Linked DNA regions of Homo sapiens. The protein of the gene in region 2 interacts with the protein of the main gene of each other region in a biochemical or structural test. Each region holds a gene or a part of one and is shown on either strand. Other genes may lie near its edges. The genes, in order: RTKN, DLG3 and ABCA2.

Region 1 (3,743 bases), on a different chromosome or scaffold from region 2:
AATCCCAGCACTTTGGGAGACCAAGGCGGGTGTATCGCCTGAGGTCAAGAGTTTGAGACCAGCCTTACCAACATGGTGTAACCCCATCTCTACTAAAAATACAAAAATTAGCCAGATATGGTGGCAGACGCCTGTAATCCCAGCTACTCCGGAGGCTGAGGCAGGAGAATCGATTGAACCCAGGAGGCAGAGGTTGCAGTGAGTCGAGATCATGCCATTGCACTCCAGCCTGGGTGACAGAGTGAGACTCTGTCTTAAAAAAAAAAAATTAAAATAAATAAATAAATAAATAAATAAAAATAAAAAATTATACATATTTGTAATGCTTTTTAAGAGATGGGGTCCCACTATGTTGCCCAGGCTGGACTTGAACTTTCGGGCTCAAGCAATCCTCCCACCTTAGCCTCCCGAGTAGCTGGGACTACAGGTGTGCACCACCATGCCAGGCCAATTTGTGTGTGTGTGTGCGTGTGTGTGTGTGTTTTGTTGAGACAGGGTTTCATGTTGCCCAGGCTGGTCTCCAACTCCTGAGCTCAAGAGCGATCAGTCCCCCTTGGCCTCCCAAAGTGCTAGGATTACAGGCTTGAGCCACTGCACCCAGCCATCTTTTTTTTAGACGTAGTTTCGCTCTTGTTTCCAAGGGTGGAGTGCAATGGTGGGGTCTCAGCTCACCACAACCTCTGCTTCCCGGGTTTAAGCGATTCTCCTGCCTCAGCCTCTCAAGTAGTTGGGATTACCGGCATGTGCCACCATGGCCGGCTAAATTTTGTATTTTTAGTAGAGATGGGGTTTCTCCATGTTGGTCAGGCTGGTCTCGAACTCCCAACCTCAGGTGATCCACCCTCCTAGGCCTCCCAAAGTGCTGCGATTACAGGCGTGAGCCACCGCGCGCAGCTGCTCTTTATGACTGCAAATATGGGGCACTTGCCTTGTGCCAGGCACTATGCTGGGCATTTTACCCTCATTCTTATAGGTAATCCTCATAGCAACTTGAGGAGTGGAGATAATTACAGTATTCCCACTGAACAAATGAGAAAACTGAAGCTCAGAAAGGCCAGTGACTGGACCAAGTTAATGATTGCACGGTTAGTTAGTGACAGAGCTGGGGTTTCACGACGTGTTTAAGCACCGCCCCATCAGTTGTGGCCACTAGGCTTAGGCGGATAGCCTCGCAGAGGAGCCTAGGTGGGGAGGGGGACGAAGAAGGAACATTTGGGACTGTGGGATGTTGAAATGGTCTCTTCGGAGGCTGCCGGGATTGAAACTGGGCAAGGTCCCAGGGCCCGAGTAGAGCCAGAGCGTGCTACGCGGCGATCCCTGAGCCACGGGGTTTTCAGCGCCCGGGAAGCCAGGCTTGCCAGGTTGGGGCGGCTGGCGGGGCAGGGCTTCTCGGTCCGTCCCAAGTCCAGGTAGGCGCTCGCGACCCGCGCGGGCAGGGAGAACGCGCTCCCACAGTGCTCGCGAGGTGCAGTGCGCCCCTGGGGGCTCCGGGGCCGTCGGGCCAGGTCGGCTTGGCGCCCAGGGACTGGCCGGACGGGCTGGGCCTTTGGCGGGGGTGGAAGAGGAGGTTGCCGCGCCCTGCCCGGCCCAGGTGTCGTCTCCGGGGGCGGGGTTTGGAGCCCCGCAGCGGGAGATTCCCGGCCGGACTGGCGGACGAGCGTCGAGAGACAGAAGCCGAGGAGAGGAGGCTAAGCCGGGCGGCGCGGGGAGCGCACTGAGCAGGCAAAGTCGCAGGGCCGCCAGCATGTTCTCCCGAAACCACCGGAGCCGGGTCACCGTGGCCAGGGGCTCCGCCCTGGAGATGGAGTTCAAACGCGGCCGCTTCCGACTCAGCCTCTTCAGCGACCTGCCCGAGGTGAGAGACTCGCGTCCCTGCCTTCCCCTTCCGCGGCTCCCGGGGGCAGCCCCAGCCACCTCGGCCTCCTTCCCTCGCCCGCGTGCACGCCGAGGGGCGGAGACGCACGGTCTGGGTACAAACCCGACGGAGTTGTTGACTTAAAAAGTAAGGTGTGGACGGTCTGCATTTTCATCGGATCCATGCTGCCCATTCCGCGGCCTGGTTAGGATTATCTGCCTGAGCCTGGAAAAAGCCCGGGTTGGTCTCAATTTGTAGGGCCCCAGCTCGACTCCTAAAATGTGCCTGAACCCCAAAATGTCTTGGGCATCCCCGGGCCAAGGGCGGTGGGCAGCTAGGCGGGCCCCAAGCGCTCGGACTCTTGGCCTGGGCTCCCGCTTGTTCCCCAGTCGCCAGCCCCATCCCACAACCTGTCGCAGCCATCTGGGCCAGCCTCTGTCATCAACCCCGACTTTAGGCCGGGGCCGCTCGCTTCCCCGAAGCCCAATTCAAAGGCTCCTCTATGCCCCTGCAGGGCTTTTAACTCCTTGGGGTTACTTCCCACACGCAAAATTTCCGCCTCCTTTTCTGGGGCCTAAGAGGAGTCCAGCCCCTAGGCTGAGCGTTTCCCCCGTCCGCCGTCCACGCGTTAACCTGTTGGATCCCCACCTGTAACGCCCTAAGGGCTAGGGCGGGGCTGAAGGTGTGTGGTTGAGCGGGGACTGAGAGGGCGAATAGCTACCCCGAAGACTCTTCTGTCCCCAAGGTCAGACTCACACTCGCCCAAGGAGAGCCCAGTTCCAAGCCTTCCCTTCCGGGTCTGGAAAGGGTTAAGTGAGGTGGGCCTTCCTTCCGCCCCCTCTACCTCCCGGCTGGGATTCCAGGCCTGGCTTCTGCCCTTTCCCTCCAGCCTGCCCAGAACAAAGAGGCTCTTTCACACCCTTGTCCCGGCGTCCCGGGCCTTCTCTGACTCAGAAGCTAGTGGACCTGGGGAGAGGGGGCCTTTGTCGCGTCCCCTTGCCCCCAAGCGACTGGGCCCGAGGAACCCGCGTGGGGCCAGCGTGGGGGAGTAAGGGGCGAGGCCCGGGACCAGGGGGAGGGGCCTGTGAGCTGGGGCCGCCCCTGGGATTAGCCCGGCCTTCGGGGACAGCTCGGAGGAGCTGGGGCGGAGCCGCAGGGCCTGGCGGCCGCCGAGTGAAGTGTGACTCCGTGGGCCTGGCGTGGAGGCGGGGGCGCTAGGCTGCAGCTGGCTCGGAATCGGGGCTGGTTTCCTGTCTGGAAGGGAAGGGGCCTGCAGAAGGGAGCGGGGACAGCAGCAGACAGGCACACCCCTGCCTTCCTCTCTCCCTCTCCTCCCTTCTCTGGAAAAGCGAGGTAATTGTGAGCCCAGGGTGGAGCGGGCTGGATGGGGGCCCTGAGTTGGAAGGGGTGGCCCTAGGGCTGGGCTGCTTTGCCAACTCACCCCTTTGTCCCATTCCCTGGGCTCACTCTCCCCTGAGGTCCTCACCTGTGTGGCTCTTTTTCCCAACTTTCTCAAACTAAGCTGGAACCCCTCTCGGGAAGCTCCAACCTCCTGCAAACCCCATGACTCTAGAACCTGCATGAGGCGTCGTTTCCCTGCCCCCTTCCAGTTGTGCCTGCCCCTCACTGCCCTCTCCGCACACAGATTCCCTGTCCACCAGGCCAGGGATGTGGGCGGGGGCTGGGGAGCGGCCAGAGTCGGAATGAAAGGGCCTTTTTCTTCCACAGCTGGGAGAACAGCTGCCACCAAAGCGAGACTGGACACTCTGTGCCTAGAGCCCCCTCTGCAGCTGGCCTTTCCTCCTGGGACCCCACTTATCCTCACTTCGCTTTCTTTTTCTTCCCTGCCTGGCTCCCGGCAGGGCCCCGGAGCAGCAGTGGGCGAGGA
Region 2 (3,643 bases):
TTGCCAAAGGTCAAGCATGGTTCTGGGAAGTGCTAAAATGTATCTTGTGTTTTAAACTTACAACCAGTAAACTCCGCCCTCTAATCTTCTACAAATTCATCCTAACTCCCCTAATTCATTTTATTTTATTTATTTATTATTTATTTTTTAGACAGAGTCTCGCTCTGTCACCCAGGCTGGAGTGCAGTGGCGCAATCTCGGCTCACTGCAACCTCTGCCTCCCAGGTTGAAGCAATTCTCCTGCCTCAGCCTCCCGAGTAGCTGAAATTACAGGTGCCCGCTACCATGCCCGGCCAATTTTTGTATTTTTAGCAGAGACGGGGTTTTGCCATGTTGGCCAGGCTGGTCTCGAACTCCTGACCTCAAGTGATCTGCCTGCCTCAGCCTCCCAAATTGTTAGGATTACAGACGTGAGCCACCGCGCCCGGCCTCCTAAATTCATTTTAACATCTTCCTTCCTTCTCTCACCAAACTAATTTGTGCTTAATTCAAGTTCTGTTCTTTTCCTTACTATATTTGTTCTAATCTTTGAAACCCATAATGACATCCAGTGTTTCTCATTGTCACTGAGAATGAGGTTGCTTCATGATGCTCTTCTTAGTAGGAGTGGCTGACAGAATGTCTTCCTTGCTTTAGGAAATGCAGGACTCAGGCAGTGAGAATGCATTCAGTTTTGATTCTGTCACACATAGCCCGGAATGCACCTCTCGGACAGCACCTCCTTGTCTGCTGCCTCTGCCATTCTCCTTACTGCTTTGAGTGTGTAAATTGAGGGGAAAAAAGGGCTTTTTGTTAGAGTTTGGGTATTTTCATTTTCAAATCATCTGACGCTGATTTTTAAGAACTCTGTTTCAAGAGCTGTAAGCAGTAGGTGAGTATTTCACTCTTCATGGTTTTACTACATCCTATCTCATTTGGGCTTGCATATGGTAAGATAGTGTGTTTTACTTGCAGCTTCCAACTGAGCCAAAGGCCACAGTATTGCAGGTAGAAGTCAAAGTCTTGGAACTAGATTTTGGGCTGTGTGTGCAAAGGTGTGAAAACACCTTATTAACAGAGAATATGAAGAAGACAGCCTAGATTGCAGGTAGAAAAATACAAACTTCTCACTGAAATCACCCATTTGTGGTGACTCCATATGAAGACAGGTTCCACTGGATGTGAAAAGTAGAAACTTTTTTTTTGGCTTTTTTTTTTTGAGACAGAGTCTTGCTCTGTCGCTTAGGCTGGGGTGCAGTGTCGTAATCTTGGCTCACTGTAACCTCCACCTCTCAAGTTCAAGTGATTCTCCTGCCTCAGCCTCCCGAGTAGCTGGGACTGCAGGCATGCAACATCACACCCAGCTAATTTTTGTAGTTTTAGTAGAGATGGGGTTTCACCATATTGGCCAGGCTGCTCTTGAACTCCTGACCTCAGGTGATCCACCCGCCTCAGCCTCCCAAAGTGCTGGGATTACAGGCGTGAGCCTCTGCGCCCGACCTCCTAAGGCTCTTTTGATGTGTCACTCCTCTCAGATTTCCAGGGGCCACTAGATCTTGTCTATTCAAGGGCTTCCAAAATTTGCTTCAGACCTTTATTTCCAATACCATTTCCTAGGACTTCTAGCATCAGCCAAGCTGGTGTCCTTTTCCATAAGCCTGGATTGTATAGCTCCCTCCCCACCTTCTCCCACCTTCCCTTTTATTTCTTTACTCTGCATCATTTATAGCATGTCACAACAGCATGTCTTGTCAGAAGACCTGGGTTTTGTCCCAGGTTGGTTAGATGTATGACCTAGGTCAAACTATTTTTTCCTCCCTGAACCTCTGTTTCCCCATATGTAAGAGAAAGAGACCGCACTAGGTGACTTCTATGGTCCCATTGGTCTTTTCAACCCTACCATTCTGTGCTTTTTCTTTGGCTGCCCGAGGACATAGGGCCCTTTCTTTAGTGCTTCAGGAGTGTTTACCAGTCATTGTTTGGGATTGTAGTTAACATTTTTTGTCCTCTCTTTAGCTACTTTTTGAAGATATGTTTGTGAACTGAGAAAGCGCCCTGCTAGAGCTAGTTTCCTAGGATGTGGGTGAGGGAGAGGGCTATTGAGCGAGTTCTACTTTGGACTTTTATCTTGCATCCAGAAGCCAAGAGGAGATGGGGTTTGTAAAATATTTTCTCTTATGCTTCTTATTGGGAGAATGAGATGTTTCTTTGAAAGCGGGTGCATATTTACCACTTTGGCTCAGAAAGAAGGATGTGGTCTCCTGGAGACATCCTTCTAGTATACTGTGAGGCTGCTATGTCTGTGCTGTTTGGGTTGGCCTTCCATCTTTTCAAGGTGCCAGTGTCTTGGCATTTAGGGTTGGATGATCACTTCATCTTTCACTGTGCCTTTCAGGGCCCTGTTTGATTATGATCGGACTCGGGACAGCTGCCTGCCAAGCCAGGGGCTCAGCTTCTCTTATGGTGACATTCTGCATGTCATTAATGCCTCTGATGATGAGTGGTGGCAGGCAAGGCTGGTGACCCCACACGGAGAAAGTGAGCAGATCGGTGTGATCCCCAGTAAGAAGAGGTGAGTCGTCATGATCATGAGCAAGGCCTTTCCTGCCCTCTTGCTGGTATTTCTTTCTTGTTTTCCTATTAGAAGTTGCTTGAGAGCAACGTTTGTGCCTTGATTCCTTTTTGGTAGAGTCGGTACTCAACATGGTTTTTACTCAGTGAGCCAAAAAAATGGCTGCTGTGCCTGCTGCAACCCACTGCTGAGACCATTTACTGGCAGTAACAGGACTTCTTTCTGATTCCAAAACAGGGTGGAAAAGAAAGAAAGAGCTCGATTGAAAACTGTGAAGTTCCATGCCAGGACGGGGATGATTGAGTCTAACAGGGTAAGTGGGGATCCCCAAGGAAATCAGCCAGTAGGTAAAGAGGGTTGAGAAGCCTGGAGTTTAGTCTGATGTGTAGGAGAACTGGGGAACACAAAAGAAAATCTCTTTTTCAGGGGGCTGGCTCTGTCCTATCAGAACATTGACTGCTTTTCAGAAAGCAGAGAGGGAGCTCTTAAAGTTCACAGCCAGTCTGTGCTCCTTTCCCCTGGGTACCGGCTCTTGAAGATGTGTTAGAGTTGGACTGTCTGGAAGGCTGACTTGCTTGGGGAAAATGAAACCACTCGTGGGTGTCTCCCTGGCTATAGATCCTGTCAGAGCATCCGGCCAAGAAGCCCAGCTCCAGAGCTCCCACCTCCCTTCAGACCACCTGAGGCAGGCGGGTTCTCCATTCACCCCTTTTTTTCTATGAGCTTCACAGGCCAAAGAACTTCTGGAGCAGTAGAGGGAAGAGAGACGTGGAGTAGATGTGTATATCAGTGGTACCTTAGGGCATGTGTCCAGGAGGCTACAGTGACCTTTGTTCTTTAGGAAGTACCAGTGAGTGTTATGAGTGTCTGGATTATGTAGAAACTTCTAACATCCCTACAACATTTTCTTGTAAACATAATTTTCCTCTTACATCAACTTTCATTTAATCTCATAGACTCCATTTGTGAGAGATGGTCTTTTATTTAGCTCACCGTTGTCTCCATTTTAGTTTTTCTTGCATGCTTTAAAATCCATTGTTCTGTTTTTTTTTTTCTTCTGTCCTTCCCCTCCATCTTCATGTTCTTTCACAG
Region 3 (3,643 bases), on a different chromosome or scaffold from region 2:
CCTGGAGCGCAGCCTGGATGCACTGCACCTCAGCAGCTTCGGGCTGATGGACACGACCCTGGAGGAAGTGTTCCTCAAGGTGTCGGAGGAGGATCAGTCGCTGGAGAACAGTGAGGCCGGTGAGGGGCCTGGACCACTTGCTCAGCCCACCCCACCCACAAGGCCCCAGCTCGGGCCTGCGCTGTCACTCCTGCCTGGTGTCTGGGGGCGCCACCCTGGTCCTGGGTGGAAGCCAGGGGACGCCCCGGGGTTAGCCTGCGGTCCTAGGTGGGTGGTCCTGGTGGCCAGAGGTCCCGGACAGGTGTATGAGCCTGGGAACTGGGGTCAAGACCGGGGATGGGGGTCCTGGGCAGGCCTAGGGGCCAGTAGCCCTGAGTGTCCCCTCGGCCCTTCCACTGCGGCAGATGTGAAGGAGTCCAGGAAGGATGTGCTCCCTGGGGCGGAGGGCCCGGCGTCTGGGGAGGGTCACGCTGGCAATCTGGCCCGGTGCTCGGAGCTGACCCAGTCGCAGGCATCGCTGCAGTCGGCGTCATCTGTGGGCTCTGCCCGTGGCGACGAGGGAGCTGGCTACACCGACGTCTATGGCGACTACCGCCCCCTCTTTGATAACCCACAGGACCCAGACAATGTCAGCCTGCAAGGTGGGGGTGGCAGGGTGAGGCTGGGACAGCAAGGGAGGGGGAGCAGGGTTGCGGGGGAGCGGCATGAGGGCAGCCAGTAGGGAGAGGGTAGCGTGCAACCACCTGCTCAGCCTCTACCTCTCTGCACAGAGGTGGAGGCAGAGGCCCTGTCGAGGGTCGGCCAGGGCAGCCGCAAGCTGGACGGCGGGTGGCTGAAGGTGCGCCAGTTCCACGGGCTGCTGGTCAAACGCTTCCACTGCGCCCGCCGCAACTCCAAGGCACTCTTCTCCCAGATCTTGCTGCCAGCCTTCTTCGTCTGCGTGGCCATGACCGTGGCCCTGTCCGTCCCGGAGATTGGTAGGCCACCGGCTGGACAGGGGTGCTGGGCTTGCCTCCCCCCACCGCCCGCTGGGAGCCCTGATGATGCCCACTCCTGAGCTTCCTGACTCTGGGCCTCACCCCACACCTGAGGCTGGGCACGCACCGGGGTTCATCCGGGAGTCCTGTCTCCTCGGGTCCCAGACCCCAGGCGTGGATCCCTTGGGGTTGGGGGAAGGGGACCGAGGCTTGGGGGCCGCTGGCCAGAGGGCAGAACCTGCTCAGGCCTCCCTGCTCGCCCTGCCAGGTGATCTGCCCCCGCTGGTCCTGTCACCTTCCCAGTACCACAACTACACCCAGCCCCGTGGCAATTTCATCCCCTACGCCAACGAGGAGCGCCGCGAGTACCGGTGAGGCCTCCAGCGGGGGCAGCCTTGGTGGGTGGGGCGAGTGAAGGGGCGGGGACAGCCTTGGTGGGCCAGGCGGGCGAGGGGGCGGGGCTGGCGAGGGGCGGAGACTGGCAGCCCCACCTCACACTGTCGGTGCCCGCAGGCTGCGGCTATCGCCCGACGCCAGCCCCCAGCAGCTCGTGAGCACGTTCCGGCTGCCGTCGGGGGTGGGTGCCACCTGCGTGCTCAAGTCTCCCGCCAACGGCTCGCTGGGGCCCACGTTGAACCTGAGCAGCGGGGAGTCGCGCCTGCTGGCGGCTCGGTTCTTCGACAGCATGTGTCTGGAGTCCTTCACACAGGGGCTGCCACTGTCCAATTTCGTGCCACCCCCACCCTCGCCCGCCCCATCTGACTCGCCAGCGTCCCCGGATGAGGACCTGCAGGCCTGGAACGTCTCCCTGCCGCCCACCGCTGGGCCAGGTAGTGGTTCAGGGGGCCTGCTGGGGGGGCAGGGGCAGTGAGGGGTCCTTCTCACCGCACCATGCTGTGCCCACAGAAATGTGGACGTCGGCACCCTCCCTGCCGCGCCTGGTACGGGAGCCCGTCCGCTGCACCTGCTCTGCGCAGGGCACCGGCTTCTCCTGCCCCAGCAGTGTGGGCGGGCACCCGCCCCAGATGCGGGTGGTCACAGGCGACATCCTGACCGACATCACCGGCCACAATGTCTCTGAGTACCTGCTCTTCACCTCCGACCGCTTCCGACTGCACCGGTGAGCTGGGTGGGGAGGCTGTGGGTGAGGGTGGCCGGCCACCAGCCACCTAGTCTCAACTCCTGCCCCTCTAGCCTCACTGCCTGCCTAGCCTCACCGCCCCTCCCACCTGCCTGCCCAGGTATGGGGCCATCACCTTTGGAAACGTCCTGAAGTCCATCCCAGCCTCATTTGGCACCAGGGCCCCACCCATGGTGCGGAAGATCGCGGTGCGCAGGGCTGCCCAGGTGAGCGAGGCTGCGGGCCTGGGCCCCGCTGTGTGTAGCGCCGCCCGAGGTCTGCAGGGACCCAGGTCTGAGGTCCTGGGGCCTTTCTGTGTCCTCTTCCTTCTGCAGGTTTTCTACAACAACAAGGGCTATCACAGCATGCCCACCTACCTCAACAGCCTCAACAACGCCATCCTGCGTGCCAACCTGCCCAAGAGCAAGGGCAACCCGGCGGCTTACGGTGAGCTGACATAGGCAGGGCGGGGCGGGGCGGGGAGGAGCTGGGGCCGGGGCGGGGAGGAGCTGGGGCCTGAAGCTGCCGCCCCCGCCCCGCCGTGTGCAGGCATCACCGTCACCAACCACCCCATGAATAAGACCAGCGCCAGCCTCTCCCTGGATTACCTGTAAGTGTGGCCAGTGGGGGATGAGGTGGGGCAGGTGGGCACTGCAGCCCCGGCCGTGAGGACTGAGGGCTTCCTTGCCCCAGGCTGCAGGGCACGGATGTCGTCATCGCCATCTTCATCATCGTGGCCATGTCCTTCGTGCCGGCCAGCTTCGTTGTCTTCCTCGTGGCCGAGAAGTCCACCAAGGCCAAGCACCTGCAGTTTGTCAGCGGCTGCAACCCCATCATCTACTGGCTGGCGAACTACGTGTGGGACATGGTGCGCCCGGCGTGGCCATGGGGTGCCCCGGCCCTTCTCATCCCCCATCCCCGCCCTGCCCCGGGTCTCTCACCAGCCGCCCCCACCCCTGCAGCTCAACTACCTGGTCCCCGCTACCTGCTGTGTCATCATCCTGTTTGTGTTCGACCTGCCGGCCTACACGTCGCCCACCAACTTCCCTGCCGTCCTCTCCCTCTTCCTGCTCTATGGGTAAGCGGAAGCGGAGGGGGGAGCGGCCTCAGGTGGGACCGGGGCTGCCTGGTGACCACTGCCCGCCACCTGCCCGCAGGTGGTCCATCACGCCCATCATGTACCCGGCCTCCTTCTGGTTCGAGGTCCCCAGCTCCGCCTACGTGTTCCTCATTGTCATCAATCTCTTCATCGGCATCACCGCCACCGTGGCCACCTTCCTGCTACAGCTCTTCGAGCACGACAAGGTGGGGCGGTGACGACATGGTGGGGGTGGCGGACCCTGCGGAGGCTGTGCCCCTCACCCCGGCCACCCCTGTGCCCCTGACCCCGGCCACCCCGCAGGACCTGAAGGTTGTCAACAGTTACCTGAAAAGCTGCTTCCTCATTTTCCCCAACTACAACCTGGGCCACGGGCTCATGGAGATGGCCTACAACGAGTACATCAACGAGTACTACGCCAAGATTGGTGAGGGGGCCCGTGGGGCG

The links.
Region 1: the proteins of DLG3 (region 2) and RTKN interact in a test that uses a peptide from one of them, tested with the Homo sapiens proteins (one large-scale study listed by IntAct).
Region 3: the proteins of DLG3 (region 2) and ABCA2 interact in a test that uses a peptide from one of them, tested with the Homo sapiens proteins (one large-scale study listed by IntAct).

What each region holds. Positions count from the first base shown.
Region 1 is NC_000002.12:74,439,818-74,443,560, reverse strand, and holds the start of RTKN (rhotekin), read left to right. Parts: upstream 1-1,623; 5' UTR 1,624-1,744; coding exon 1,745-1,855; intron 1,856-2,977; exon of another isoform or gene 2,978-3,743. UniProt on the Homo sapiens protein: Mediates Rho signaling to activate NF-kappa-B and may confer increased resistance to apoptosis to cells in gastric tumorigenesis. May play a novel role in the organization of septin structures.
Region 2 is NC_000023.11:70,489,733-70,493,375, forward strand, and holds part of DLG3 (disks large homolog 3), read left to right. Parts: intron 1-2,374; coding exon 2,375-2,551; intron 2,552-2,788; coding exon 2,789-2,864; intron 2,865-3,643. UniProt on the Homo sapiens protein: Required for learning most likely through its role in synaptic plasticity following NMDA receptor signaling.
Region 3 is NC_000009.12:137,011,166-137,014,808, reverse strand, and holds part of ABCA2 (ATP-binding cassette sub-family A member 2), read left to right. Parts: coding exon 1-119; intron 120-404; coding exon 405-641; intron 642-770; coding exon 771-977; intron 978-1,245; coding exon 1,246-1,348; intron 1,349-1,490; coding exon 1,491-1,807; intron 1,808-1,883; coding exon 1,884-2,097; intron 2,098-2,218; coding exon 2,219-2,324; intron 2,325-2,432; coding exon 2,433-2,544; intron 2,545-2,646; coding exon 2,647-2,707; intron 2,708-2,790; coding exon 2,791-2,965; intron 2,966-3,059; coding exon 3,060-3,175; intron 3,176-3,254; coding exon 3,255-3,402; intron 3,403-3,499; coding exon 3,500-3,623; intron 3,624-3,643. UniProt on the Homo sapiens protein: Probable lipid transporter that modulates cholesterol sequestration in the late endosome/lysosome by regulating the intracellular sphingolipid metabolism, in turn participates in cholesterol homeostasis.